2 separate regions of the Homo sapiens genome follow, and region 2 is linked to region 1. Evidence: fine-mapped QTL for protein levels in blood plasma. Region 1 holds a variant in brackets. A gene starts in the other region. All regions are shown on their forward strands.

The links. PIP is the chance, under the fine-mapping model, that this variant and not a neighbour inherited with it causes the effect. Protein levels are from antibody-based Olink assays in UK Biobank. Linkage for the fine-mapping came from a reference panel and not from the study's own genotypes, which makes the PIPs less certain.
Region 2: EGFR starts here. The variant in region 1 is fine-mapped to the plasma level of the EGFR protein (UK Biobank, PIP 0.95).

What each region holds. Positions count from the first base shown.
Region 1 is chr12:111,406,485-111,418,383 of GRCh38, forward strand. SH2B3 (SH2B adaptor protein 3) reads left to right here. Exons shown (of 8, transcript NM_005475.3): 2 at 11,635-11,899. The coding sequence starts at 11,662. Among named protein-coding and RNA genes, the nearest start is that of SH2B3, 6.5 kb to the left of the region's middle. RefSeq lists a silencer at 3,473-3,622 and enhancers at 6,715-7,562, 11,183-11,882. The variant C/T (reference allele first, on the strand shown) is at 668.
Region 2 is chr7:55,005,767-55,022,422 of GRCh38, forward strand. EGFR (epidermal growth factor receptor) reads left to right here and starts at 13,251. Exons shown (of 28, transcript NM_005228.5): 1 at 13,251-13,599. The coding sequence starts at 13,512. LOC105375284 (a long non-coding RNA gene) reads right to left here and starts at 13,156. Exons shown (of 4, transcript XR_007060329.1): 1 at 10,795-13,156. RefSeq lists an enhancer at 14,251-14,925.

The DNA of each region.
Region 1 (11,899 bases):
CACGTGTTAGGGAGAGCGTTGGGGTAACTGAGGCCGTGGGATGGGGGAGAGGGCATCGCTGACGCCCCCAGCCCACCCTACGGTAGCCTCGCCGGTTGGGGGCGGCCCTCCCCTCAACTTGTGCCTGGGGAGGAGCGGTCAGGGGTCACCCATTGCTACCCTGAAAGTGAAAGTAGTCAAACTGAGGCTGTGAGCACAGATGAGCCCTTGGGTGTGGGGGCAGCGGGGGAGGATGCGCCGGCCCCTCCCCACTCCCCATTCCGGGCCATGTGGCTAAGAGGGTAGCGCCCTGATTCAGGAAGCCCCTCTCCCCAGTTCCTGCACTGCCGAGGTCGACCGGGCCAGGCCCCCGCATGCTGCTGAATTGGGCGGTTCACCAGGGCTAGGCGTCCCAGAGACAGGTTTCTGGTATTGATCCTCTCACACCTCTTGCCTGGGGTTCCCTGGGAATCCCCCGACCAAAAAACGTCTGGAGTGGGTGTTGGTCTTCTAGATCCGCACGGTAGGGATGGTATTTCAGAGGTCTCTGATGCCTGGTGCAGAAATCCCCTTCCCTCCCTTCCCTCCCTCCGGCCAGGGGAGCTTTGTTTTGAGGGAGGGGGACTGCATTTGAGGAACTGGAGAGGAGGGTCTGCCTGCCTGTCCCGCTTCTTTTTTTCTTTAGTTT[C/T]CTCATTCTCCTGTTTCTCTTCCCCATTCCCAGCCACAATGATGTAGGTGAGGAGGTCACTGCCTGCAGCTGGGGGCCTCCAGGGAGGGGCACGGCCAGGCTGGGCTGAGTGGGAGGAAGTGAAATCTGGTGGGGGGTTCAGAGCAGAGGCCCCGGCAAGGCAATGTCGGCAAGGCCAGCTTTGGTGGCAGGAGGGACCGAGATCTGACCCGCAGCCCCTCGCCGGGGAGATGACAGTTCCCTAACACCGGCTAGCAGCCAGGCCTCAGGGCCCCTGCCAGGGCAGTGGGCCTGTGGGTCTCCAGGGATGCAGGCGCAGGTTGTGTCTGGGTTTCCCATCACTGACCTGGCTGCCTGAGTGGAAACAGCTCTGGAGGCTCCTCGGGACCTGCCCTCGTGGAGGGAGAGCCGTCAGAGGCCACCTGGGCAGGCTGGGCTCGGAGGATGAGAGCCAGGGCCTACTGGGGGAAGTTGGAAGGGTTTTTAGTGCACTTTTCCTGAGCCTTTTCCCACTACCCCCTCTGGGAGGGAAAATCCTTCTGAGCCAAAGGGTGAGCATTCCTAGAACTTTTGTGAGTCCCTGTGGGCCACAGAGCGGCCAGCTGGGAAGGGGCTGGCTCAGAGCATCAGCAGCTGGGGGCTCAGGGTCTGCAGGGGCTCAGCAGGAAGTGGAGGAGGATAGTGAGGAGGGTCCTGGAGACTGTGCTTTGCTACTCCTATTGCCTTCGTTCAGCTGAAGGCGTGGGCAAGTGACTCTGCCCTCAGTTTCCCTCTGTGTAAAATGGGGGAGTAACAGGTTTGCAGTGGAGATTTAATGAGCCAGTGTGTAATGAGCACCTGCTGCCTGGCAAAGAGAGGTTCAGTTGCAGGTGGTGGTGGTGGTAGTGGTGATTTTATCATTGCCTTCATTAGTGTTACTGTTATTGGCTATGAGGTGTTCCTTCAGTAGTCTCCCTTGAGCATCTCTTGCATACATAGCACTGGAATTTCCTGGGTCTTTGGGAGCAGAATTTTGAAGATCTGGGCACTTCCTTAGCTATAAGGCCTTGCTTAACTGCCCCACCTCAGTTTCCTCATCTGTGAAATGGGTGTGCTAATAGTACCTACTTCCTAGAGTCATGGGAACCATGAATGAGTGAATTCACAGTGTCCAGAGTGGCTTGGTCAGGAGGAAGAGAAGAAGTAGCCTTGGGGCCGGAATGATCTTTTTTGTTGTGGGTGTTAGCTCTGCTGGCTTTCTTTCCTCATCCCCCCACCCCCACCCCCATGCCTCTCAAACCTGGGCCTGATCCTCCTTCTCCGATAAATAGAACTTTTGAGTACAAATCAGATCCCACAGGACTGCTGGGCCCTTGGATTTCTGGCTCCCGCTGTGCCACCCCCAGACATTCTCCATATCCCAGGTGGAGCAGAGCTGGAGGCACTTGGAGGGACCTCCTCGCTGCCAGTCTCAGTGCCACCTGTCTGTGGTGAGGGGAGACCGGGTGCCCTCCCCAGCCAAGGTGGGGAGGGTCAGTGAAGGGGGTCTCAGGGACATAGTAGGGAGCTGTCCCACAGTCTGGGCCAATACAGCTCCTTTTGCTGGAAACACCTTTGGGACCCAGTTTACATGACCCCACACCCTTCTGAGGGCTGGTGTTCATGAGGGTCTCCCATTGCTGGGGATCCTTGGGTTGATCACTTAAGCTCTCTGAGGCAATTGAGACAACATCTGTGAAAGGCTTTAACAGCTGTGCACTTGCTGTGACATGGCACATAAGGCACTGAGCGCTGAGCCTGGCACTCAATTAACAATAGTAGATATTATTGCTATTAATAAAACAAGAGGCTTTTCCTGCTAAATTCCCACTTCTCCCTGGTAGCAGTATGGACTTTGGGGCCAAATCTGGGCTCTGCCAGCTTCCAGGTGTGAGGTCCTAGGCAGGTTACCTGGCTTCTCTGATCTGGACCTCGCCTGCCCGATGGAAGCCAAGAGTTCCAGCCTCCCCAGGGTTGGGTGTGTGAAGTACAGTGTCAGGACTGGAACTGTGTTGGCTGTACTTGCTCTGGCTGTGTGATCTTGGGCTGGTCCCTTAGCCTCTCTGAGCCACAGGTCTTTTTGTCTATGAAATAGGGGGGTTGCCAACTCCCTGTTAGGGTGGTTTTGAGAAAAGGAGGCATGCACAGTGCCCGGCATGCAATTGGCACTCAATAAGTGCAAGCCATTGCTGTTCATGCCCAATAGGGGCTGGCACTTAATTGCCAGGTTTCCTGGGAAAACGGTCCCCAAGGGCCCGCGGGCGTTCAGCATCTTTGACGAGGCAGGGCAGGAAGCCGCTGCCGTCTGGCAGACCGGAGACGCCTGCCTCGGCGAGTCCAGAGGTGCAGTGCTAGCTGCTCATTCCCTGCAAGGCCCCATTCCTCACTACCCACCCTTCCCAAGGAAACTGAGGCGGGCAGGCTGCCCAGGGGAAGTGACTCAGCCGGGGTCACTTGCTGAGTCAGGCCTTATTGGACCCAGGAGTCCTGCACCCCACCTCCCCAGCTTCCCGGGGCTTGAGATCCCTTGGAGACTGAGCAGGTCCTGAGGCCTGGCAGCAGGACCAGGCCACCACTGGACATCTGCTCAATGGGGCCCTGCTGCCGGGGTGACAAGCATCCCTCTACCAGGGCTCCAGGGTTCTGCTGGCCACCACTAGCCATCCTTCCTCCCAGCAGGGGCAGAGGACACTTCCCCAGGGGAACAGGTCCTCCTGGTGCCCCCCCACTCCCCGCCCCAGCCGGAAACCCGGCAGCTGAGCAGTTAGATAGAAGATTTTTCCTCCCACGCCACCCTGTCAGGGGTCGGCCAGCAGGGCCGGGCCACAGGCTTCCTTGTGAGCCAGGCCTGGAGCCCCTGGGGGCCCACCCGGATGTGGCTACCCCCCGGCTGGCCAGTGGGGAGCCGGCTGCTGCCCAGGACATGTGTCCCCAGGGAGGCCTGGGAGGAAGGAAGTCTATGCCCTCCTCACAGGGGCTGACTCACAGGCGCCCAATGGGGGGCCCCAGCTGGGAGACTGGGAATGTGATCAATCAGGGAGGTGGACACACAAGGGGACCTCTGACATGGGATCTGCCCTTTCAGAGCTCACACACTGGTGTCATCTCAAGGAGGAGAGGCCCAGAGAGGGCAGTGTATGCTGCGAGAGGCGAGGTAATTGAGGGCTTACGCATGTCCCTCCTGATGTCCCCAAGTAGCACGTGGGGAGGAGGTTCACCCACAGGCTGCCCTCCTAGGGTCTCCCCTGTCTGCCCTCAACCCAGAGGCAGTGAAAGGAAGAAGCCACGGCCTTGGGATGGGGGGCGTGCGGGATTCTGATGGTGCTGCCTCTCCGCAGGGAGATGGTTCTTGGCTTTCCCTACCTCCTGAAACCTAGCTGGGGCGGTGGCTGGGATGTCAGGCTGGCGGTGTGGGCAGAGGAAGCCAGAGGACATTTCCTGTTCTGGCAGACTGTGCTGGCCTGATAAATGTCCCCGGGGCACAAGGTGACCCCAGCAAGGGTGCATCAGTGTCCAGCCAGCTGCCCCGTGGCCTGGGGTAGAACCCACCTCTCTGCCTCCCCAGGGACCCTGCCTTCGCCCCCTGCTTCCCGTGGGCATCTCTGCGTCTGGCAACTTGAATGCTGTGAAAGGGCAGCAGGCCGCCTGCCAGGCAGTGTGTGTCAGAATCCCACAACTCTCTGGGCCTCCTTAGGCCACAGGGTCTGGACTCTATGAACAGTTGGTGCTAGGCATGGGGAAGATAGAAATGTTCCTTGTGGCCTAGATTCAACCAGGAGGCCTCCCTGGAGGAAGTGTCCCCTCTGAAGGTGTGAGACTTCCTGCCTATATCTGTGAGCTGGGGCAGGGGAGAGTGGAGGCTCTGGACTGGCCCAATTTAACTTCATTTACCACACTTTAAGAAATCTTCCCCAGGCTGGGAGCAGTGGTTCACACTTGTAATCCCAGCACTTTGGAAGGTCAAGGTGGGAGGATCACTTGAGCCCAGGAGTTTGAAACCAGCCTGGGCAGCATAGTGAGACCCTGTCTCTACCAAAAAAAAAAAAAAAAAACTGGGTATGGTGGCACATGGCTGTGGTCCCAGATACTTGGAAGGACTGCTTAAACCCACAAGGTCATGGTTGCAGTGAGCTGTGATCATGCCACTACACTCCAGCCTGGGTGACAGTCAGACCTGTCTCAAAGAAAGAAAAAAAAAAAAAAATCCTCCCCAAGCCTCAGCAGGGGAATTCCTACCATGGATAAAGGCTTTCTCTGCATGTGGGCCTGATCATTAAAAGGAAAATTTCAGCCTCCCGAATTATACTATTATCCAGGGTGATTAGATAGAGGAGAGGCTGAGAAGCCCTGATCTCAGCGGGGCATGGATTAAGGGGACCCCACAGCTCAGCCAGGTTCCCAGCGATTCAAGGTCCTGCGATTTCTCACCGACTTGGTGGCTCCAGGGTGCCTGGGGCTGGCTGTGCTTCTTGGGGAGCACCAGGTACCACTGCTGCTTCGAGGCCCTCAATAGCCCTTTGGTGGACCCGGTTGTGTTCTGAGCTTGGGGTCCTGAGATGCAGACACCCCCCAGCCCCAGCTGGTGGGCGTGCAGCTAGCTGCCTTCATGTATTTGCTGCAGGGAGGGAATTGGGGGTGGGGGACAAGGATGCACCAGGCTGAGTTATTCCTTCTGCACATCATCCTGCCCCTCACCTGGCTGCAGGATTTGGGGAAACCCTGGAGACCCCCATAGCTGGGAGGTTCCTGCCCCAGAAGGAAGCCTGAGCAGGTGAGGGGGGTCTCCTGGGTGCTAGGGCCCCTCTGTGGGGAAGGTGGTTTATTTCTCTGGCTGACCAGGCTCCCCCGAAGCTCTGTGCTGGGATAGAAGTGTCCCAAAGACACCCTGCCCCCAACTCATACCCTACAGTCGAAGCCTGAGGGCCCCAGGTCCCCCTGGCGTGATCATCATTGCTTCCTGTCCACAGCTTGTCAGCCCCTGATCCCAGGGTTGTCACCATCTGATCAATTGCTTTTTCTCTGAGCCTGGCACATAGTAAGCACTCAATAAACGCCACTGCCTGGGCCAGGGTCAGGGAGGGATCCACCTTCCTGTGGCCTGGCTGCCCTCCTGGCCAAAAAACCTCCCTGGTACAGTCCCTTCCATAGCTTGGGCTACAGCTGACTGCTCTGGGCTGGCAACTTCCTGCCCGGAGCAGCCTGAGCAGCCGCCTCTCCCCTGAGAAGATCTTTTGTTCCAGCTCCCCATGACGCCCCGAGCCCAGCCCATGAGGCAGGCCCCCCTGTGGCTTCCCATGGCGGGCGAGCCTGACTCCGAGGCTGGAGCTCTTTTCTAACAGTGATAGTAAGAAAATAGCAGCAGCCACTTATGAGCCCCATGCCAAGCACACTGCAGACATCAGTTCTTTTTTTCTTATAGAGATATGGTCTGCTTCTGTCACTCAGGCTGGAGTGCAGTGGTGTGATCACAGCTCACTGCAGCCTCGACCTCCTGGGCTCAAGCAGTCTTCCCGCCTCAGCCTCCTGAGTAGCTGGGACTACAGGCCCAGCCACCATGCCAGGCTAATTTTTTTGTATTTATAGTAGACATAGGGTTTCATCATGTTGCCCAGCTTGGTCTCGAACTCTGGGGCTCAAGCAATCCTCCCGCCTTGGCCTCCCGAGGTATTGAGATTATAGGTGTGAGCCACTGAGCCCAGCCTCTCATTTTTGTTTTCTTCCTTTTGCCCTGTGACAGTTTTCCTGATCATTGGTGGGTTTGGGACCTGGACAGAGCTACTGCCGACTCCTGACTCCAGCTGGAGCTGAATGAGACTTTTATATTCTCTCCTCTGGGACTCACTCATTCATCCAATAAGCATTCATTGGGAAGTGAGCCCTTCTTGTGTGCATTTAGGCACTGATCAGACATTTTGGGGGTCCCTTCTGTGTGGGGGTCTCTATAATCACTAGCTATGGGGCCGCTCTGTTTCAGCTTCCCCATCTGTAAAATGGAAGTAATCGTTGGACCTACCTCCTAGGGCTGTTAGGAACCTTGGAAGAGGTAATATTTTGTAAAAGTAGTTAGAAAAATGCCTGATATGATCTTGGCATGGTGCCATGAGCCTGTAGTTACAGCTACTCTGGAGGCTGAGGCAGGAGGATCTCTTGAGCCCAGGAGTTCGAGGCAGCAGTGAGCTATGATTGTGCCACTGCACTCCAGCCTGGAAGACAGAGTGAGACCCTGTCTCTAAAAAGAGAAAGAAAAATGTCTGATGTGTAGCAGACGCTCAGTAAATGCCATTGTTCTTATGGGAGGACTGGTGGAAGGGGCCCAATGAGGGGGGTTCCCAGCCGTTGCCTGGGCAGTGAGGGACCTGGAGTGGGCGCAGCTGTTTTGAGGAAGGCTCCTGCCAGGGTTTGGCCCTGCAGTTGGGCTTCAAGACTCTGACATACAGGACTGTGCGGAAGGTAGGACGGCCCAGGGGGCGGGGGAGGTTGGTTCATGCTGGTTGCCACGCATCTGCCGGGAGAGCAAGAGTTTGCAAATCCAACTGATCTCTTGCATTCATATGTTCATTCATTCAAGAGGCATTCATTGAGCTCCTGCTGTATGCTAGGAGCTGGAGATGAAGCAGGGAATGACTCATGGAACTCAGTCTGTTGGAGAGATAGTCACTAATAAAAGCATCCTGTCAAGTGATAATGTGTGACCAGTGTGCTGAAGGTCAAGTTCAGTTGGGAGCTCAGAAGAGGCTTCTCTTATGTGCAATTGGAAGCAGACAGGGCAGAGGGAATGGCTCATGCCAACACCCACAGGCAGCTGGCGTGACTAGCGGCAGATCGTGTAGGTGGGGCAGGAGCCTGGGTCTGGAATCACAGCTCTCTGGGCATCCTCCAAGCCACGAGGGCAGCGCCTGTCTCACCTGTGTCAAGGCTGGGTGTGGGGAACAGTAGGATTGACCAAGAACAGGTGCCCTTATGCAGGGGTTAGACCCTCCCCCCTTCAGGGACAGGAAGAACATGGTGGCCAAGGGCAGATGTGGCCCCTCCCTCTCCCTTCCCATCTGCCTGACAGCTTTTAGTGACTACTTACTGTGTGCAAAGTACCTACTGTGTGCGGGTCCCAAGGACCCTGTGATGTACAAAACTGTCGACTGTAGCAGGGCACGGTGGCTCATGCCTGTAATCCCAGCACTTTGGGAGGCCAAGGTGGGAGGGCTGCTTGAGCCCAGGAGTTTGAGACCAGCCTAGGCAACATAGTGAGACCCCATCTCTACAAAAAATACAAAAATTAACCAGGTGTCGTGGTGTGTGCCTGTAGTCTTAGCACTTTGGGAGGCCAAGATGAGGATAGCTTGAGCCTGGGAGGTCTAGGCTGCGGTGAGCCATGATTATGCCACTGCACTCCAGCCTGGGTGACAGAACAAGACCCTGTCTCAAAAAAAAAAAAAAACATTGTCGACTCTGCATGGCCCCCTTCCATCGAGGGCAGAGGCACCTACTTGTGCTTTTTGGGGTTTCTTGTGGAGATCGGCTGTGGGGGTTCCACCATGGCCTCATGTGACAGGGGCACCCTTTGTTGCCACTGCCCTGCAGACATGCCCAGCGGGACATGGCCACATGCAGAGACGGTGCCTGTGGAGGGGTGTGTGGCAGAGAGAACCCCATTTGTAGGTTCGCATCTCCACCTTGCATTCCCTTTCATGGGTTCCTTACAAGGTGGATGCCATGCTGCCACCTGGTTGGCAGATGAGGAAATCCAGGTTCAGAGAGGTTGAGTCAGGCATCAGGAGCCACACAGCCAATACGTGTCCCCCTTTGTAATGTGAGCCCTGGGAGAGCAGTGTTCGTCTGTGCTGTTCACCGTGGTATCTCAGGGCCTAGCCTGGTGTCTGGCACACAGTAGGCCCTCAGTAACACCTGAAGAGAGGATGAAGGAGGGCGTGATTGGAGGCAGCAAATGTACCCAGGCCCCTGTGGCTCTGTAGCTTGTGTTGTGCAGCCACTACCCCTGCCCAGGGAGGGAGTCACTGGAGTGGCACTGCTGTTCATTCAGGGTGTGCTGATATCAGGGATCTGGGGCCCAGTTTTGTGCCTGAGTAGGGAGAGCATTTCTTCTCCATCTTGAAGAGCGACATGGATATGTGGTCTCCAGCAGGGGCCCAGGCCCAGCGAGGGTCAGGAGGAAGGAAGGATGGTGCCCACAGAGGTCCCAACTGTTCTGCACCGTGGACAGCAGAGGGGTGGGGGGTCTCAGTGCCATTCTGGTGATGTTGTGCCTAAGGAAAGGCCCTCTGGCCATGGGAGGAGAAGGATGCCCCAGTTGAGATGGGCAGGCAAAGGTCTGCTAGTCCTGAGGGTCCCCTGTCAGTGCAGGAAATCCCTCTGGACCCCCGTGACTTTTGTTAATTTATTCCTTTTTATTTTTTGTTTTATATTTATTTTTGTTTTTGTTTTTGTGTGTGTGATTTTTTTTTTTTTTTTTTCCAGGACAGAGTCTCGCTCTGTCACCCAGGCTGGAATGCAGTGGCATGATCTCAGCTCGTTGCAACCTCTGCCTCCCAGGTTCAAGTGATTCTCCTGCCTCACCCTCCCGAGTAGCTGGCATTACAGGCACACACCACCACACCCAGCTAATTTTTGTATTTTTAGTAGAGGCGAGGTTTCACCATGTTGGCCAGGCTGGTTTCGAATTCCTGACCTCAGGTGATCCACCCACCTAAGCCTCCCAGAGTGCTGGGATTACAGGTATGAGCAGCTGCCCCCGGCCCATTTATTTATGTATTTATTTATTTATTTATTTATTTAGAGACGGAGTCTCGCTCTGTTGCCCAGGCTGGAGTCCAGTGGCGTGATCTCGGCTCACTGCAAGCTCCGCCTCCCGGGTTCATGCCATTCTCCTGCCTCAGCCTCCCCAGTAGCTGGGACTACAGGTGCCTGCCACCACCCCCCGCTAATTTTTTTGTATTTTTACTAGAGATGGGGTTTCACCGTGTTAGCCAGGATAGTCTTGATCTCCTGACCTCGTGATCTGCCTGCCTCGGCCTCCCAAAGTGCTGGGATTACAGGCGTGAGCCACCGTGCCCGGCCCTATGTTTATTTTTTAGACACCAATAATATACTCTCACCGCAACATGGAAATAACAACAATGTCAGCCAGTCTTTATGAAGCATTTTCTACGTTCTAGGGCTTTACAGCTATCAATTCATGCTCATAATATGCCTATGAAGTAGGCATGATCATGGTTCCCCTCTTACAGATGGAGAAACTGAGGTAGAGAGTAATCATGTAAGTCACTTAAGGTCCCATAACTAATAAGTTGTTGCTGGTTTTTTTTTTGTTTTTTTGTTTTTTGTTTTGAGACGGGGTCTTGCTCTATCACCCAGGCTGGAGTGCAGTGGCACCATCTCAGCTCACTGCAACCTCCACCTCCTGGATTCAAGCATTTCTCCTGCCCCAGCCTCCCAAGTAGCTGGGACTACAGGCGCCCGCCACCACAGCCGGCTAATTTTTGTATTTTTAGTAGAGATGGGGTTTCACCACGTTGGCCAGGCTGGTCTCTAACTCCTGACCTCAAGTAATCCACCTGCCTCGGCCTCCCAGAGTGCTGGGATTACAGGCATGAGCCACCGCGCGTGGCTGGTGCTGGGATTTGAACCCACATTCCAGAATCTGTGTTCTTAGCCATCCTTGCTAGAGATAAGCAGTAACAGGCTTCTTGGTTACTTCCCCACCATCCCCACATCCCAATTCTGATTCCTCCCCAGAGGTACCCACTGTTTCAGGATGAGTTTGCTTCTGCCAGACCTTTCTTGCCCACCATTTACAAAATGTTTGTGTACACATAAACATTAGTAGTTTGGTTTTATGTATGTTCATGTAAATGGGATTGTCTAGGGTGTCTTGTTCTGCCGTTTGCTTTTTCGCTTAGTGAATAGCCCTGGAGCTCTCCCAGAGGTGGTGGGGTGGGTCTTCCTCACTCTTTCCCCCTGATGCAGTCTTCCAGCCTATAGATGGGCCAGATTCTTTCACTAGTCTCCAGCTGGTGGGCATTTAGGTTGTTTCTAGTTTTTCCCCATTATAAACGTTTTAGCAGGAAATATGTAGCAGGGAGCAAGTATTTCTCTTGAATACTTAAAAGTGGGATTCCTAGAGCCTGATTGCTCTGGCTAGGACTGTCAGTACTGTGTTAAATAGAAGTGACCAGAGTGGGCATCCTTTTCTCATCCCTGGCCTTAAAGGAAAAGTTGTCAACTTTTCACCATTAAGTACAATGTTAACTGTGTGCTTGTCATATAGGGCCTTTATTTTATTTATTTATTTATTTATTTATTTATTTTTTGAGACAGAGTCATTCTGTTGCCTGGGCTGGCGTTCAATGGCTGATCATGGCTTACTGCAGCCTTGACTTCCTCAGGCTCCCAAGTAGTTAGGACTACAGGTGCACGTGCTGCAATGCCAACTCATTTTTGTGTTGGTTTTTTTGGAGAGATGGGCTTTCACCATGTTGCCCAGGCTGGTCTCAAACTCCTGGGCTCAAGTGATCCTCCTGCCTCAGCCTCCCAAAGTGCTGGGATTACAGGCCTGAGCCTCCGACCTCAGCCTTTATATAGGGCCTTCAGTGTGTTGAGGTACAACATACCATCTATGCTTAATTTGTTGAAAATTTTTATCATAAAGATATGTTGAATTTTGTCAAATACTCTCTCTGCATCTATCGAAATGATCATATGGTTTTTGTACTTCAAAAGCAGGATTCCAGAGTCTAGAATCAATTCTGCCAAATTGGCCATGCCCCTTACAGAATGCCACTTGGTAGGGGAGTGCATGTTTCCCTGCATCTTCACCAGCACTGGGTGTTATGGTCGCGTTGGATTTCTGCTGTGGTGCCCGGTGTGTAATGGGGCCTACACCTGCTTGCCCACCTGCTTACTCCTTGTCGCCCCCCCACCCACGTGTCTTTCAGCCCGGCCGCACCACCTGGGTCTCCGCCATGAACGGGCCTGCCCTGCAGCCCTCCTCGCCCTCTTCCGCGCCCTCAGCCTCCCCGGCGGCGGCCCCGCGGGGCTGGAGCGAGTTCTGTGAGTTGCACGCCGTAGCGGCGGCCCGGGAGCTGGCCCGCCAGTACTGGCTGTTCGCCCGGGAGCATCCGCAGCACGCGCCGCTGCGCGCCGAGCTGGTGTCGCTGCAGTTCACCGACCTCTTCCAGCGCTACTTCTGCCGCGAGGTGC
Region 2 (16,656 bases), not on the chromosome of region 1:
TTTGAGGGAAGGAACAGTGTGGTCCTCAAAGTTCATAATGAGAAATCTTGGAGAAAAGTCATAGTTGCTAAGCTGCGCCATTGGAGGCTTGAAGGGTTCTTCTTAAAAAAATTAATGACTAATTCTATGTTTTGATTGTTCATATGACGACTAATTAAAGGAGAAATCTAATGGGCTGGACTCCACTTCAGGCTTTTTTTGCTCTATCTGCATATATGGAGCTGCTCACAAAACTTTCAGGGAAAGGAAAGAACAGTAACCCTTTAAGGGTTTTATATAGGCAACCTTTCAGCTGGAAAAAACGCCTGTGCAGAATGGTTCTGGCAAGAATTCACCACGTGCCGGGTGCTGTCCCTGCATTATTTCAAGCCAGAGCAATCCTGTGTACAAACACGTACGCCAGTCCACAGAAGATCACACAAGGCTGTTGCTTGGAGAGACTGAAAAAATATCATGTGCTCAAAGCCACAGTTAATGGCAAATGGCCCTGGCATTTTTGGGTCCCTGTTCATTTGGATACTCCATGTTATCTCGCTCTCCTCTCCACAAATACATAGAATGAGTGTGTGTACAACGAACATATTATAGAAATATATAATGTATGATAATATAATGTATGTTTATATATTAAACAAAGTAATTTAATCTTAAGCATATATAAAATATACCGTTTAAATATTTAACAAGGGGTTGACTACCTTCTTGTATACATTAAGGTGTGCTGTGATATGATGAGTGACAAACAACCTGCACCTCCCGTGAGCCTAATGAGGGGGTGTTTCTCTCTCTACACACCCATCGTTAGAATGCCACCTACGAGTCCGGCCCAAGGGGCTGCTCCCCTCCCTCTGTTCCCAGGCTGAGGAGGAGGTCGCTGGCCAACAAGAGGGAGGAGGAAGTGACCTGGGGAGGCGTGGCCTGGTTCAGGGAGCCTCTGCCCCAGAGTGACAGGAGTCCTACCATCAGCAGGTTATGCAAGCCTATGGCGGACTTCCAAGGACCGCCAAGAACCATCCACCAATGGGGAGAAAAAACAGATGCTTCTGATCACAGAAGCAGTCTACGCTTCTCCTTTAGGCTACAATTAACTGGCCTCGGTGAGATTACTAAGAAGGAAAGGCAGCGCACACCTGCCAAATGATCTTAGCAGGTGACAAAACTAAATGCTACAATGTCAGAACAACTCCCTAATCTCCAGTGACACAGCAATTGCCCTAAATGCAGGCACTGAGGATTCCAATGCTTGTGTCACCACTAACTAGTTGTGTTTGACATTTATTTTAACTGTGGATAGCAAAACATCCTATTTTTTATGGTGTTGAGAAACCAGTGAAATTATTGATTATGGAAGAGTAGAAAGACTTTTCGTCTTACACATACACACACACACACACACACACACACATCCCTGGTTAGCTTAGGTGACCTTTTGTAGATTGACTGTAAGTTCTGCAAAGGCAGGAACTAGTGAGTGACCCCATATATCCTGCCACCTCTGGCTCTTGATAAATGAGTGTTGAGTAAATGCCATTTACTCCAACTCTGAATTTTAATCAAATAGCCAACAACCCTGAAAACTCCTATGTGTTTTATTTTATTAATAAAATATTATTTATTAATCCTTTGTCTCTTTGTGAAACAAGTAATTTGGACAAGGTGCTTACCTTGTCATCTAAAAAATGGCGAAGAACTATCTGTGAGGTCCCTCCCAGGTTTGTTTCAATGACTGAGGCTTTGTAAGCTCAGTCCCTTAAAAGTAACAACTGCAAGAATTTCTGCTGATTTTTTGGAGGGGCCCTAGAAACTCTAATTTTCCATTCAATTGCAGAAATAGAACACCAATTTGCTTTGGATTTCTCTAGCCCTGTCATTTTTAGCCTACATATTTTTGACCTTGCAGACCCTCCAGATTTTCTGCCATCTAAAAATGCCACTTGAAATCTAGCTTCTGGAGACCTCCTCTCAAAAGCGATTTATTTCCTTCTATAGTACATGTGGAAGCTTCATTCCCTCTGTTTATATTCCTTGTGAAAAAAAATAAATAAAGTGACACAATTTTCTCAGTTGGTGACCTGCCTTGAGTTTCTCCTTGGAAGAATATAAGCTTGAGAATAGGTCTTTGCTCCAGGACCTTTATTACATAAGATGAGACATAATTACAATAATTAAAATAATGAAATCAGACATAGCTAAAATGCTTCAAAATGTCTCTTTAGTTGTGTCCTAATAAGCACTCATTCTCACTTATTACAGTTTATAGACAAATTAGCCAGACAAAACTTGCTGCTTTGTAGGATTGGCAGTGAAGTTGACTCCAGCCACCTTCCTAAACCTCCATCTCCTACCCGTGATTACCTGCAAAGCCAACTCATGTTCAACTCATGGAACATGGTCATTCCACATGTACCATAAATTAATGGATAGATCCTTTTTTCTCTGTTCTGCAACAGAACTGAATTTGCTTCCAGAAATGTTTAACTGGTTTTTAGAAAGTCTGCCTATAAGGATAATCATGAGCTGTGATAAACATTTGTGCTTGAATATTACTCCATATTTGAAATAGGCAATTTAAAGAGATGTCTATCATGATATATAATGTATTATGGCATCTGGACAAAAACCTGTTAACAAAAACATATGTACACATATATGAGATGAGAGAGAGAGACGAATGAAGAAAGAAAGATAAGGAGAGGGGAAAAGCAGAGATAGGAAGCATACCTATAAAGTGGCACTATCATGATTTAACCACGGGGGATGAGTTACAAACTCTAATGCCTACAGTGACCTCACAGACCCATGAACAAGAGAATCAGGATGGCAGCTCCAGCGTGAACTGGAGATCAAATGTACCTCCTAAAGAGGACAGTTACCATTTAGCCACCTGCCATCTTCCATGAAAGCAAACACAGTTAGCCAACAATTCCCATTTTCCGAGAGAAACACAAAGTCTACAGTTTAAATGTAAAACCTTCTGATTTTTAAGTGTTGCCATTAATTAAACTAAAAGGAACATTGAATGGACTTCACAAAACTACATCTGTACCCTGAACTTGGTTTTCAGACCACCAGTTACAATCTCCAGGCTAGTGTTTCTAGTAACATCTGTCCCTGAAACAAGCTACAATACCTTGAACAAAATTATTTAAGCTCATTTGTAAAATTGTCACTAGGGGGGAAGCATTGTGAAGGATACAGAAACCTTCTATAAGATCCCTCTGCAAAGTAATTAACAAACATCTCAACGATGCTGAAACTAGCATTCAAACATGCAGTCATGTTTTTTTATTGTTGTTGTTAATTCATAAACTTTATTTTTAGAGCAGTTTTAGGTTCACAAAAAAGTTGTGCTAAAAATATAGAGAGTTTTTGTATACCCCTGTGCACACACATACATAGCATCCCCCCAAAAGTGGTGTCTTTTTACGACTGATTACCAACATTGACACATCATTATCACCCAAAGTCCATAGTTTATGTTAGGGTTCCCTCTTGGTGTTGTACATTCAATGGGTTTTTACAAATGTAAAATGACAGGTATCCACCACTGAAATATGGTATAGAATAGTTTATCAGCCCTAAAAATCCTCTATGTTCTGCCTATTCATCTCTCCTTCCCGCCAACCACTGGCAGCCACTGATCACCTTACCGTCTCCATAGATTTGCCTTTTCCAGAATGTCATATATAGTCATGCATCACTTAACAATGAAAATATGATCTGAGATGTGTGTCATTAGGTGAATTTGTCATTGTATGGTCATAACAGAGTGAACTTACACAAGCCAAAATGATATAGCCTACTATACATCTAAGTTATATGGTATAGTCTATTTTTCCTAGGCTACAGACCTATCTGACATGTTACTGTACTGAATACTGTAGGCAATTATAACATAGTGGTAAATATTTGTGTATTTAAACATAGAAAAAGTACAGTAAAATTATGGTATTATAATCTTATGAAACCACTATTGTATATGGGTGCCATTGTTGACTGAAATGTCATTACGTGGCACATGACTGCAGCAGGAATCATAAAGTATGTAGCCTTTTCAGATTGGCTTCTTTCACTTAGCAACATGCACATAAGTGTCCTCCATGTCAGTTCATGGCTTGATAGCATATTTCTTTTTAGCACAGAATAACAATCCATTGTCCACATGTACCATGGTTTATTTATCCACTCATCCACATGAAGACATCTTAGTTGATTCTAAGTTAGGGAAGTTATGAATAAAGCTGTTATAAATATTCATGAGCAGATTTATGTGGACAACAGTGTTCAACTCATTTGGGTAAGTATCAAGGAGAGAAATCATTGGATCATATGGTAAGAGTATGTACACTTTTATAGGAAACTGCTAAGCTGCATTCCTAAGTGGCTGTACCATTGTGCCTTCCCATCAGCAATGAATGAGACTTCCTATTGTTCCACATCCTCATCAGAATTTGGTGTTGTCACTGATCTGAATTTTTTCCATTGTAACAGATGTGTAGTGGTATCTCACTGTTGTTTTAATTTGCAATTTCCTAATGACATATGATGTTGAACATCTTTTTATATGCTTACTTGCCATCAGTGTATCCTCTGATGAGGTGTTTGTGTAGGGCTTTGGCCCATTTTTAAATCAGGTTATTTATCCTCTTATTATTAACTTTTAAGAGTTTAGTTCTTTGCATATTTTGGATAACAATCCTTTATCACATATTTCTTTTGCAAATTTTTCTCCAGTATATGGCTTGTCTTCTTCTCCTGGCATTGTCCTTCTCAGAGCAGAAGTTTTTAATTTTAATAAACTCCAGCTTATAAATTATTTATTTCATGGATTGTGCCTTTGGTTTTGTACTTAAAAAGTCATTGTCATACCTAAGGTCATCTAGGTTTTCTCCTACGTTATCTCCTAGGTGTTTTATAGTTTTGCATTTTACATTTATATGTATGATCAGTTTTGAGTTAATTTTTATGAAGTGTGTAAGGTTTGTATCTACATTCATTTTTTGCATGTGGATGTCCATTTGTTCCAGCAATATTTGTTGAAAAGACTATACTTGCTCTATTGTATTGTGTTTCTTTTTTGTCAAAGATCAATTGACTAAATTTATGTGCGTCAGTTTCTGATCTCTCTGGTCCATTGATATATTTGTCTATTCTTTCACCAATACCACATAGTCTAGACTACTGTAGTTGTATATGTCTTGAAGTCAGGTAGTGTTGATCCTCCAATTTTGTTCTCCAATATTGAGTTGGCTATTGTGGGTCTTTTGCTTGCCCATAGAATCAATTAGTCAATATTTACAAAATAACTTGCTCGAACTTTGACTGGGATTAATCTATAAATCAAGTTGGGAATAAGTGACATTTTGACATTATGGAGTCTTTCTGACCATGAACACAAACTATTGATCCATTTATTTAGTTATTTGATATCTTTCACCAGAGTTTTTTTGTTTTTTTCTTATAGATCTTATACATATTTTCTTATATTCATACCTCAGTATTCCATTTCAGGGTGTTAATGTAAATGGTAATGTGTTTTTAATTTCAAATTCCCTTAGTTCTTTGCTGGTATATAGGAAAGTGATTGGCTTTTGTATGTTAACGTTGTATCCTGCTCACTTGCTATAACTGCTTATTAGTTCCAGGAGCTTTTTTATTGTTTCTTTTGGATTTTCTAAGAGACAATTACATTATCAGTGAACAAACACGATTTATTTCTTCCCTCCCAATCAGTATTCATTTTATTTATTTATTGTGTGTTATTGCATTAGCTAGGACTTCTAATACAATGTTGAAAAGCATTGGTGAAAGGAAACATCCTTGCTTTGTTCCTGATTTTAGCTATAGGTTTTTGTAGCTGTTCTTTATTAAGTTGAGGATATCCTTCTCTATTCTTAGTTTGCTGAGAATTTTTATCATGAATAGGTGTAGGATTTTGCCTAATGTTTTCTTCTGTATCTATTGATATGATCATGTAATTTTTCTTTATCTATTGATATGATCTGTTGATGTGATGAACTACATTAATTGAGTTTTCAAATGTTGAACCAGTCTTGCATATCTGGAATAAATCGGAGTTGGTCATCATGTATAACTTTGTTACACTTTGTTGCATTTGATTTTGTAATATTTTCTTGAGAATTTTTACATCTATGTTCATAAAAGATATCGGTCTACAGTTTTCTTTCCTTTCTTGTAATATCTCTGTCTGGTTTTGCTATTAAGGTAATTCTGGCTTCACAAAATTAATTATGGAGTCTTCCCTCTACTTCTAGTTTCTGGAAGAGATTGTAGAGAATGGATGTAATTTCTTTCTTAAATGTTTGACGAAAATCAGCACTGATCTCATCTGGGCTTGGTGCTTTCTGTTTTGGAAGGTTATTAATTATTTATTCAATTTCTATAGTGGATATAGGCCTATATTGATTGGCAATTTCTTCTTGTATGACTTTTGGTACATTCTATTTCAAGGAATTGGTTCATTTCATGTAGGTTGTTAAATTCGTGGGTATAGCTGTTCATAATATTCATTTATTATCCTTTCAATGTTCATGAGATCAGTAGTGATGTTCCTTCTTTCATTTCTGATATTCATAATTTGTGTATTCTCTCTTTGTTTCTTAGCCTGGTGAGAGGCTTATAAATTTTATTGATTTTTTGAAGAATCACTTTTTGGTTTTGCTGATTTTCTTGCTGGGATTATAGGCGTGAGCCACCACACTCTTGCTCATTTTTTCTATTTTTGTTTTCCACACTTTTTCTGCCTCTGTGGATTTTACACAGCATTTTGTATAATTCGATTTCCTCTTTTTAGCATAGCAATTATTTTAGTCTTTAACTTTTTAAAATCAGTTGCCCTAGATTTTTTTCTCCCAACATTTTGGGAGGCCAAGGGGAGAGGATCACTTCAAGCCAGGAGTTTGAGACCAGCCTGAGCAACATAGCAAGGCACTATCTATACAAACATAATTTTAAAAAGTCCAGGCATTAGCTAGGACTGTGCCTGTAGTCCCAGCTACTCAGGAGGCTGAGATGAGAAGATCACCGGAGCCTAGAAATTTGAGGCTGCAGTGGGCTGTGATCATGTCACTTCACTCCTGCCTAGAAGACAGTTAGACCCTGCCTCTAAAATAAACAAGCAAATAAATAAAAAGAAAGGAAGAAAAGAAGAGCAAGGGCAGCAAATAGAAAATAGTAATAAATATGGTAGCTATTAATCCAACTATGTCAATAATTACCTTAAATGTTAGTGGTCTAAATATACTGCAATGGACTGAATGTTTATGTCTCCTCAAAATGTATATGATGAAATGTAAGCTCCCAAAATGATGTTATCAGGGGAGAGTGTTTTTGGGAGGGGATTATGTCATGAGGGTGGAGGCCTTACAAATGGGGTTAGTGCTATAAAAGAGACCACAGAGAGCTGCCTTGGTCCTTCTGCCATGTGAGGGCACTGTGAAATTATGGCCATCTATGAAGAAGTGGGCCCTTATTAGACATCAAATCTGCAAATACCTTGATCTTGAATTTCCCAGCCTCCAGAACTATGGGAAATAAATTTCTGTTGTTTACAAGTAAATCATTTTATGTTATTTTGTTACAGAAGCCCAAAAAGATGAAGACATACACCAGATCACTCCATTCTCTTCTTGCTTGCATGGTTTCTGAGGATACGTTGGATGTAATTCTAATATTCTCTATAGGTATTTTCTTTATGGCTCCTCTACAGGTAAGGTGTTTTTTCCCTTTGGCTTCATTTAAGAATTTTTCGTTAACCTTTGATTTTCTGAAGTGTGAATATGTTATGCCTAGGTATCATTTGTTTGTTTGGGTTTTCTTGGCATATATCTTCCTGATGTTCTCTGAACTTCCAGAATCTGTGATTTGTTGTCTGACATTAATTTGGAGGAATTTTTGGTATTATTGCTTTAAATATTGCTTCTGCTCCTTTTTCTCTTTCTTTGACTTACAGTATTCCCATTACATGTAATTATCTCACAGTTCTTGAAAGTTTTGTTTTGTTCTTTTTGTTAGTCGTTTTTCTTTCTGTTTTTCAGTTTTGGCAGTTTCTGTTTACGTATCTTCAATCTCAGAAATTCTTTCCTCAAGCATGTTCAGCCCACTAATGTGTACTTCAAAAGTATTCTACATTTCTTTTACAGTGTTTTTGATCTCTAGAATTTTTAAATTCTTTCTTAAAACTTTCATCTCTCAGGAATTCAAGACTAGCCTGGGCAACATAGTGAAACTCTATCTCTACAAAACATTAGCCAGGTATGGTGATGCATGCCTGTAGTCAGAGCTACTCAGGAGGCTAAGGTGGGAGGATCACCTGAGCCTGGGAAGTTGAGGTTGCAGTGAGCCAAGGTCACGCCACTGCACTCTGGATTGGGCAACAGAGCCAGACCCTGTCTCAAAAAAAAGAAAAATTCCATGGCTCTGCTTACATTATCCATCTGATCTTACATGTTGCCTATTTTTTCCATTAAAACTCCTAGCCTATTAATCATAGTTTTTTTATAATTAATACTCCGATGTGATAATGTCTTAGTCCAATTACTGTGGTTATAACAGAATGCCACAAACTGGGTGATTTATAAACAAAAGAAGCTGATTTAGGCTGATTTAGAGGCTGGGGAGTCCAAGAGCTTGGTGCTAGCATCTGATGAGTGTCTTCTTGCTTCATCATAACATGGGAGAGGGCATCACGTGTGAAGAGAGCTTACTCTTATAACATAGCCACTCCCACAAGAATTAACCCACCGCCATGAGAGCCATGTGAATTCATTCATGAGGACAGCGGGTTAAGTTTCCAATATATGGACTTTTCGGGGACACATTCAAACCACAGCAGTTAGTTGTAACGTTCGTGTCATGTCTCATTCTGGTTCTGATGCTTGTGCAGTCTCTTCAAACTGCGTCTTTGCCTTTTAGTGTGCCTTGCAATGTGGAAATGATATACTGGGTAAGAGGAGCTGTAGTAAAGAGGCTTCTAGTGACGTAGTGACAAGCTGTGGGGAGAGGGAGTGTTGCACAGTCCTGCCGCATGTCACAGTCTTCCAGTGAGCCTGTGTCCCTGGACTGTGAACTTCATGCTTGCTTCTCAGCTTCCCCAGCCCCTTAGATGGTACAGAACTGTTGGAGGGGGGTGGAGTTGTATATTTCCCTTGCTCTGGGTAGGTCACCCTCTGATAAAACACCAGGTTAGGCCTCTGGTGAAATAATTTCTCCTGAGGGCAGACCTTCTATTAATAATAGAATGTTCCAACCTATTTCAAAATGGTTCCTCTTCTCCTTCCACTGCCAGAAGCATAATGAGATTTTCCCCCTAATATTCGTGGTAAGGACCTAGCAGAGCTCCAGGAGGTAACACTCTCAAGTGTCTCATACTACCCTGCACCATGACTGGGCTCTGCTGGAGTTCTTAATTTGCAGAACTGCCCACACTGAGCCTCCCGCAATTTCTCAATTACAGGGCAAACTTTCCCAGCCGGCACTGGGTCCTTGGAGGTTTCTGTCTGCTGGTTTCTTCCTCTGGAGGTTGTGCTTCTGTGTTTGCCTGTCTCTCCAATTTGGGGGGCAGTGGTTTGCCCAATGACCTCAATTCTCTGAAAGAGCTAAGAAGAGGTGTTAATTTTTCGGTTTGCTCAGCTTTCTACTTGTTGCTAGAATGGAGCGCCAATAGTGCCTCCTATAGTGACATGTAACCCTCAACTCTAGAGATGATGAAGCATACTAATGACAAAGGAGAAATGCTTCAGCAGTTTTCTGTCAGCACATTACCCCTTGAAAAAGCTGCTTCTTCCACATTCTGCAAGAGATGGGTCTCAACTCAGAGCTCAAGGCAAATGACTTCCTTCAAGGAGAAGGAATAAACAGTCTCAGAAACCATGAAAGCCTGCCCCCAGGAGTGTCCCTGAACCTCAGCAGGGGCCACACTTACCTTGCAGAAATAGGTGAGGCATGCTCCTGGTACAAAATCCCAATGGTACAGAAGGACAAATTGAAAAACAAGTCTCCCTCTAAACCCCTGACCCCGAGCTACCTAGTTCTCCTCCCTAGAGGCAAAGCTGTTACCAGATTCTTGTATCTCCTTAACATATATCCTTAGAAGAGCTGTCAAGTGAACACATGTTTAAGTGAAAACCTATTTTAGAAGTGCATTTTCTTAAGGAACTTTAGGGTTGGAAGGAACCTGTGTCAGTCCTTAATTCACAACCTCCATTAGTACTTATTGTTCTTGCACAAAAATCTTTCTCAAAAAAGCCCTTTCCACTCTGACATAGCTTATTCTACTTTTACTTAGCTCCAATAACTTATAAAACATATTTTTGAAAGTCTAAAATCTGCCACTATGTTTTTTTTTCCTAATCAATCTTTACTTTGACCTCTAAGCCAGAGAAAACAGGTGGTCAAATGCCTTTTGCCTAAGATGGAACTTAGAATATTTGAAGACCTCAGATCTTCACCCTGCCAAATAACGTGTTTCTCCTCCCCTTTCACAGAGCATTTGGTTTTAGGAAATTCAGAGCCACATTCCTTATAGACAAGACTAAACTCTTATTCAACATACTCAGAAACTTCTTCTAAGAGGATAACCACTCATCAGAGGAAAAAAGTTTCTCATGTACAGCTGGCAAAGGGATGGAACCATCTGTGTTATTAAAATTGACAGACGCTTATGAGATTTATTAAGGGAAATACTAGAGTCTTAGTACATACTTGCTAATATAGCATACATGAAGGCTTTATCTATAATTTTTTTGGCCAAGCAGAAATTTTGGTATTACTCACCCTAACAAATTTCCAAGACATTATGAAATAGAATTTTAGGTCCTGACATCACCATTTGTCTCAGGTTTTGAAGCGTTGCTGGACAAGAGGGGTAAAACACGGCTCTGCCTTGGATTCAAAGTTGGCCTCTCATACTAGCAAGTATACCTTGGTATCCTGGTCACTTCTCCCGGCCACAGCATCACATTGCTATAAAAGGCAGATACAAGTATTAACCAGCTCACAGGTTATCAGATAAGCTTAGTCTGACCAATGCTTAACACAGCAACTGGGCCACTATTGTCATTCCTGTGGTGGTGGCACACACACCCAGCCTCTGTCCGGGCCATGGTCTAGGACCACCCTCCACAGAGGCTGTGAGCTAGAGCCCTAACTGTGCAGGGCCCTAACTATGCCAGGCTACTTATCTCTCTTAAGAGGACTTCATTAGTGCCTGCTCGGCCATACAGTTTTTTACTTACCAAGTAACACAGTTATCAGCACACTCCAGGTACTAGCCAAGGACTACAAAATCAACGTGAATGTCAGCTTTTGTATCAAAAGCTCAAAGGAGAAACTCAAACTTTACATAGATGTCCCATGAAGATGTTCAGCAAACCCATTCTTCTCTGTTCCCTGGAATCCATCCCAGTATTGTGCTATGTGTGTGTCTAGTAATTCTTTACAAAAAGCTCTGTTTCTTGTGATGCTATCAGATCACATTGAAGAATATACAAGCCGTACTATGAAGGCTGTTGTCTCATATAGTCCTAACGTAGTGAGAACTGATGTTCTTACATGCTGTCTTTTTGGGCACTCAAAGAAATTCCTGTACAGTCTTACAAATCAGTTGTAGCTTAAATTGATTTGTGTTGTGACTTGTACACACAGGTCACATTCCCTTGACAGAAAATATAGTTTAAAACCAAATTTGCAGCCCTTGTTAAGTGAATGCACAGGACTTTATTGTATTCAGGTCTTTTATTGTAAGACTCACTCCTGTCTTCATTTTATGTTCCACTGTTGTGCTTCCCATTTGCCTTTCTCTAGTTTTGTTTTCTGTGTTTCTACGGACTGCTCTCAGCCCAGGTGTGCAGGAAGCACACACATGCCTGCAGAGCCTTCATGGCCTCTGCATTCAGGGCATGACTTCAACGCACAGTGGCTGTACTGATTTGTTAAAACAAAGGAACAGATTACTTCTCCTAATTCACAGGGAAGTTCCAGGTTGTGCGGGCAGTGAGCAGACCTGTGTCTGTCTGCGCTTGCCCTGGTGAAAAACCCCACCGTTCAGGCTGCAGGGTGCGAGACCCAGGCACAAACATTTTGCTGGATGAGGAGGAAAGATGTAAGGTTGCTCCCCTTCAGAGACAGCAAAGGGCAGGTCTGTAGCTTCACTTACTTCAGGATTGTGATTTTTGACAGAGCCGAGAGATCAGGGTTGTTGAACCAGGCCTGAAGGTCCTAGTGAATCTCGTGAAGAGAGGAGGGGTCTGGCTGTAACATGGACCTAGAGGACATTTTTACTGCAGGAGAAGGAACAGTGGGGATGGGGTGGACTTGCCAAAGGAATATAGCTCAAGTTCCTGCAGCCCAAAAAAGCTCAGTTTCTTTTGGCCAAAGCTTCCGCGAGTTTCCCTGGCATTTCTCCTGCGGGAGCTACAGGGGCAGTGGGACACTTAGCCTCTCTAAAAGCACCTCCACGGCTGTTTGTGTCAAGCCTTTATTCCAAGAGCTTCACTTTTGCGAAGTAATGTGCTTCACACATTGGCTTCAAAGTACCCATGGCTGGTTGCAATAAACATTAAGGAGGCCTGTCTCTGCACCCGGAGTTGGGTGCCCTCATTTCAGATGATTTCGAGGGTGCTTGACAAGATCTGAAGGACCCTCGGACTTTAGAGCACCACCTCGGACGCCTGGCACCCCTGCCGCGCGGGCACGGCGACCTCCTCAGCTGCCAGGCCAGCCTCTGATCCCCGAGAGGGTCCCGTAGTGCTGCAGGGGAGGTGGGGACCCGAATAAAGGAGCAGTTTCCCCGTCGGTGCCATTATCCGACGCTGGCTCTAAGGCTCGGCCAGTCTGTCTAAAGCTGGTACAAGTTTGCTTTGTAAAACAAAAGAAGGGAAAGGGGGAAGGGGACCCTGGCACAGATTTGGCTCGACCTGGACATAGGCTGGGCCTGCAAGTCCGCGGGGACCGGGTCCAGAGGGGCAGTGCTGGGAACGCCCCTCTCGGAAATTAACTCCTCAGGGCACCCGCTCCCCTCCCATGCGCCGCCCCACTCCCGCCGGAGACTAGGTCCCGCGGGGGCCACCGCTGTCCACCGCCTCCGGCGGCCGCTGGCCTTGGGTCCCCGCTGCTGGTTCTCCTCCCTCCTCCTCGCATTCTCCTCCTCCTCTGCTCCTCCCGATCCCTCCTCCGCCGCCTGGTCCCTCCTCCTCCCGCCCTGCCTCCCCGCGCCTCGGCCCGCGCGAGCTAGACGTCCGGGCAGCCCCCGGCGCAGCGCGGCCGCAGCAGCCTCCGCCCCCCGCACGGTGTGAGCGCCCGACGCGGCCGAGGCGGCCGGAGTCCCGAGCTAGCCCCGGCGGCCGCCGCCGCCCAGACCGGACGACAGGCCACCTCGTCGGCGTCCGCCCGAGTCCCCGCCTCGCCGCCAACGCCACAACCACCGCGCACGGCCCCCTGACTCCGTCCAGTATTGATCGGGAGAGCCGGAGCGAGCTCTTCGGGGAGCAGCGATGCGACCCTCCGGGACGGCCGGGGCAGCGCTCCTGGCGCTGCTGGCTGCGCTCTGCCCGGCGAGTCGGGCTCTGGAGGAAAAGAAAGGTAAGGGCGTGTCTCGCCGGCTCCCGCGCCGCCCCCGGATCGCGCCCCGGACCCCGCAGCCCGCCCAACCGCGCACCGGCGCACCGGCTCGGCGCCCGCGCCCCCGCCCGTCCTTTCCTGTTTCCTTGAGATCAGCTGCGCCGCCGACCGGGACCGCGGGAGGAACGGGACGTTTCGTTCTTCGGCCGGGAGAGTCTGGGGCGGGCGGAGGAGGAGACGCGTGGGACACCGGGCTGCAGGCCAGGCGGGGAACGGCCGCCGGGACCTCCGGCGCCCCGAACCGCTCCCAACTTTCTTCCCTCACTTTCCCCGCCCAGCTGCGCAGGATCGGCGTCAGTGGGCGAAAGCCGGGTGCTGGTGGGCGCCTGGGGCCGGGGTCCCGCACGTGCGCCCCGCGCTGTCTTCCCAGGGCGCGACGGGGTCCTGGCGCGCACCCGAGGGGCGGGCGCTGCCCACCCGCCGAGACTGCACTGTTTAGGGAAGCTGAGGAAGGAACCCAAAAATACAGCCTCCCCTCGGACCCCGCGGGACAGGCGGCTTTCTGAGAGGACCTCCCCGCCTCCGCCCTCCGCGCAGGTCTCAAACTGAAGCCGGCGCCCGCCAGCCTGGCCCCGGCCCCTCTCCAGGTCCCCGCGATCCTCGTTCCCCAGTGTGGAGTCGCAGCCTCGACCTGGGAGCTGGGAGAACTCGTCTACCACCACCTGCGGCTCCCGGGGAGGGGTGGTGCTGGCGGCGGTTAGTTTCCTCGTTGGCAAAAGGCAGGTGGGGTCCGACCCGCCCCTTGGGCGCAGACCCCGGCCGCTCGCCTCGCCCGGTGCGCCCTCGTCTTGCCTATCCAAGAGTGCCCCCCACCTCCCGGGGACCCCAGCTCCCTCCTGGGCGCCCGCGCCGAAAGCCCCAGGCTCTCCTTCGATGGCCGCCTCGCGGAGACGTCCGGGTCTGCTCCACCTGCAGCCCTTCGGTCGCGCCTGGGCTTCGCGGTGGAGCGGGACGCGGCTGTCCGGCCACTGCAGGGGGGGATCGCGGGACTCTTGAGCGGAAGCCCCGGAAGCAGAGCTCATCCTGGCCAACACCATGGTGTTTCAAAATGGGGCTCACAGCAAACTTCTCCTCAAAACCCGGAGACTTTCTTTCTTGGATGTCTCTTTTTGCTGTTTGAAGAATTTGAGCCAACCAAAATATTAAACCTGTCTTACACACACACACACACACACACACACACACACACCGGATTGCTGTCCCTGGTTCAAGTGTGCCAAGTGTGCAGACAGAACATGAGCGAGTCTGGCTTCGTGACTACCGACCATAAACCCACTTGACAGGGGAAACATGCCTTGGAAGGTTTAATTGCACAATTCCAACCTTGAGCTGCGCGGGTTCCAAGAGCCAGGCCCGTACTTGCTGTTGATGTCATTGGCTTGGGGAGTTGGGGTTTGGTGCCCAGCGCGGTCGTTGGGGGAGGGGCAAGGCATAGAACAGTGGTTCCCAGACCTTGCTGCACATTGGAATTACCTGGGATTAAAAAAAAAAAAATCAAAACAAAAACCAGTGTCTGGCTCCCGCCCCCAGACATTCTGATTTAATTGGCATGGGGCAAGACCTGGACTTGGGATTTTTTTTAATGCTCTTCATGTGATCTGTTGGGCAGCCAGATTTGGGGATCACTAGACGGAAGAAGGATTGTTAAAGTCTCCGGAGATGTTACTTGCCAATGCTAAGAGCTCTTTGAGGACATCTGGAATTGTTACAATATTGCCAAATATAGGAAAGAGGGAAAAGGTAGAGTGTGATTCCAATAATAAAGGATTCCGCTTTTCATTGAAGGAACTGGTGGAAAGGTTTCTTCTCTGCTGAGCCTGCAGGCCCGTCCTGCCTGCCTGGGGTGCCCGGGAGACGCGGGCCTGCTCCGGAGACTGCTGACTGCCGGTCCTGTTAGTCAGGTGTCAGCCCTGTCTCTGCCGAAGAGACTCTTCTCTTTATTTTAAATTAAACCCTCAGAGCACCACCAAAGCATCACTTTTCTCCCTCCATTGGTGTTCTCATTCTTTGATGTTACTTGTTTGAACACCACTATTAGTAGTTGGAGATTTGTTCCTGAGAAAAATATAAATACCACTTAATTTGCCTGTTTGTCCCGCATTCACTCAAAACAGAATGCTCCTGAAGACAAGAGAGAGAGTAGGAGAACAGACGCTATTCCATTACAGTAACATAAAAGACTGGATTTTCAGGGGCAAATTATTAAAATAGGAGATGAGCTCTTTTAACAGAAATTTGTTTAAGGCCTGTGTCTATCAAATTCAGTGGATTTTATTCAAGATGCACTTTGTTTAGTGGGAGTTTTGTTTGGTTCTGGGACATGCTAACTTCTAGACTTGCTGCTCTTAGAGGTAATGACTGCCAGACACCATTTCATGAGTCCTAATCCCCACATTAAGCATAAGAGGTGCACACTCTCCTCCTATGGGGGAAACTGAGGTACGAAGAACTAAAGTGACTTTCCCACAGCTGGTGGGAGGCAGACGGGAAATTCACACCAGGGGCTTCCAACTCCAGATCCCTCTCTCAACTTCCAAACTCCACTGCCTTGTCCGAGTTCTGGTTTCAGGAGATCCAAATCAGGTGTGTGCAAATGTCTAATGTCAGAGCTGGCAAGGGGAAAGGGCCCAGGGAGCCGGCTCATGACGATGAGCCTGTCTGAAGCTTCAACGCGGGCTGTCCGGCAGTCTGCATTCCTGCCGAGTTCCTCAGCCCTCTGTTGGGTCACCTTCCATAGAGGCAGCTTAGTCCTCAGTTCAGTGAGCATGGAGTGGAGACTGCTTGAGGGGTGCTGAGCAAAGCCCTGCCTCTTACAGGATGAAGGTGCTCTCCAGAAGGGACACTGGAAAGTATTCCAAGGCGAGTCGAATTCCCAACTGAGGGAGCTTTGTGGAAATAAGCCCGCCCAGCCCCACTTCTGGAGACGTTCCCATTCAGTAGGTCCGAGCTGTCTTAAAGAGAAACCAAAGTGGGGATATTAATGGTATCCAAAGTGAGATCTACCCCACCCTCCCTCCT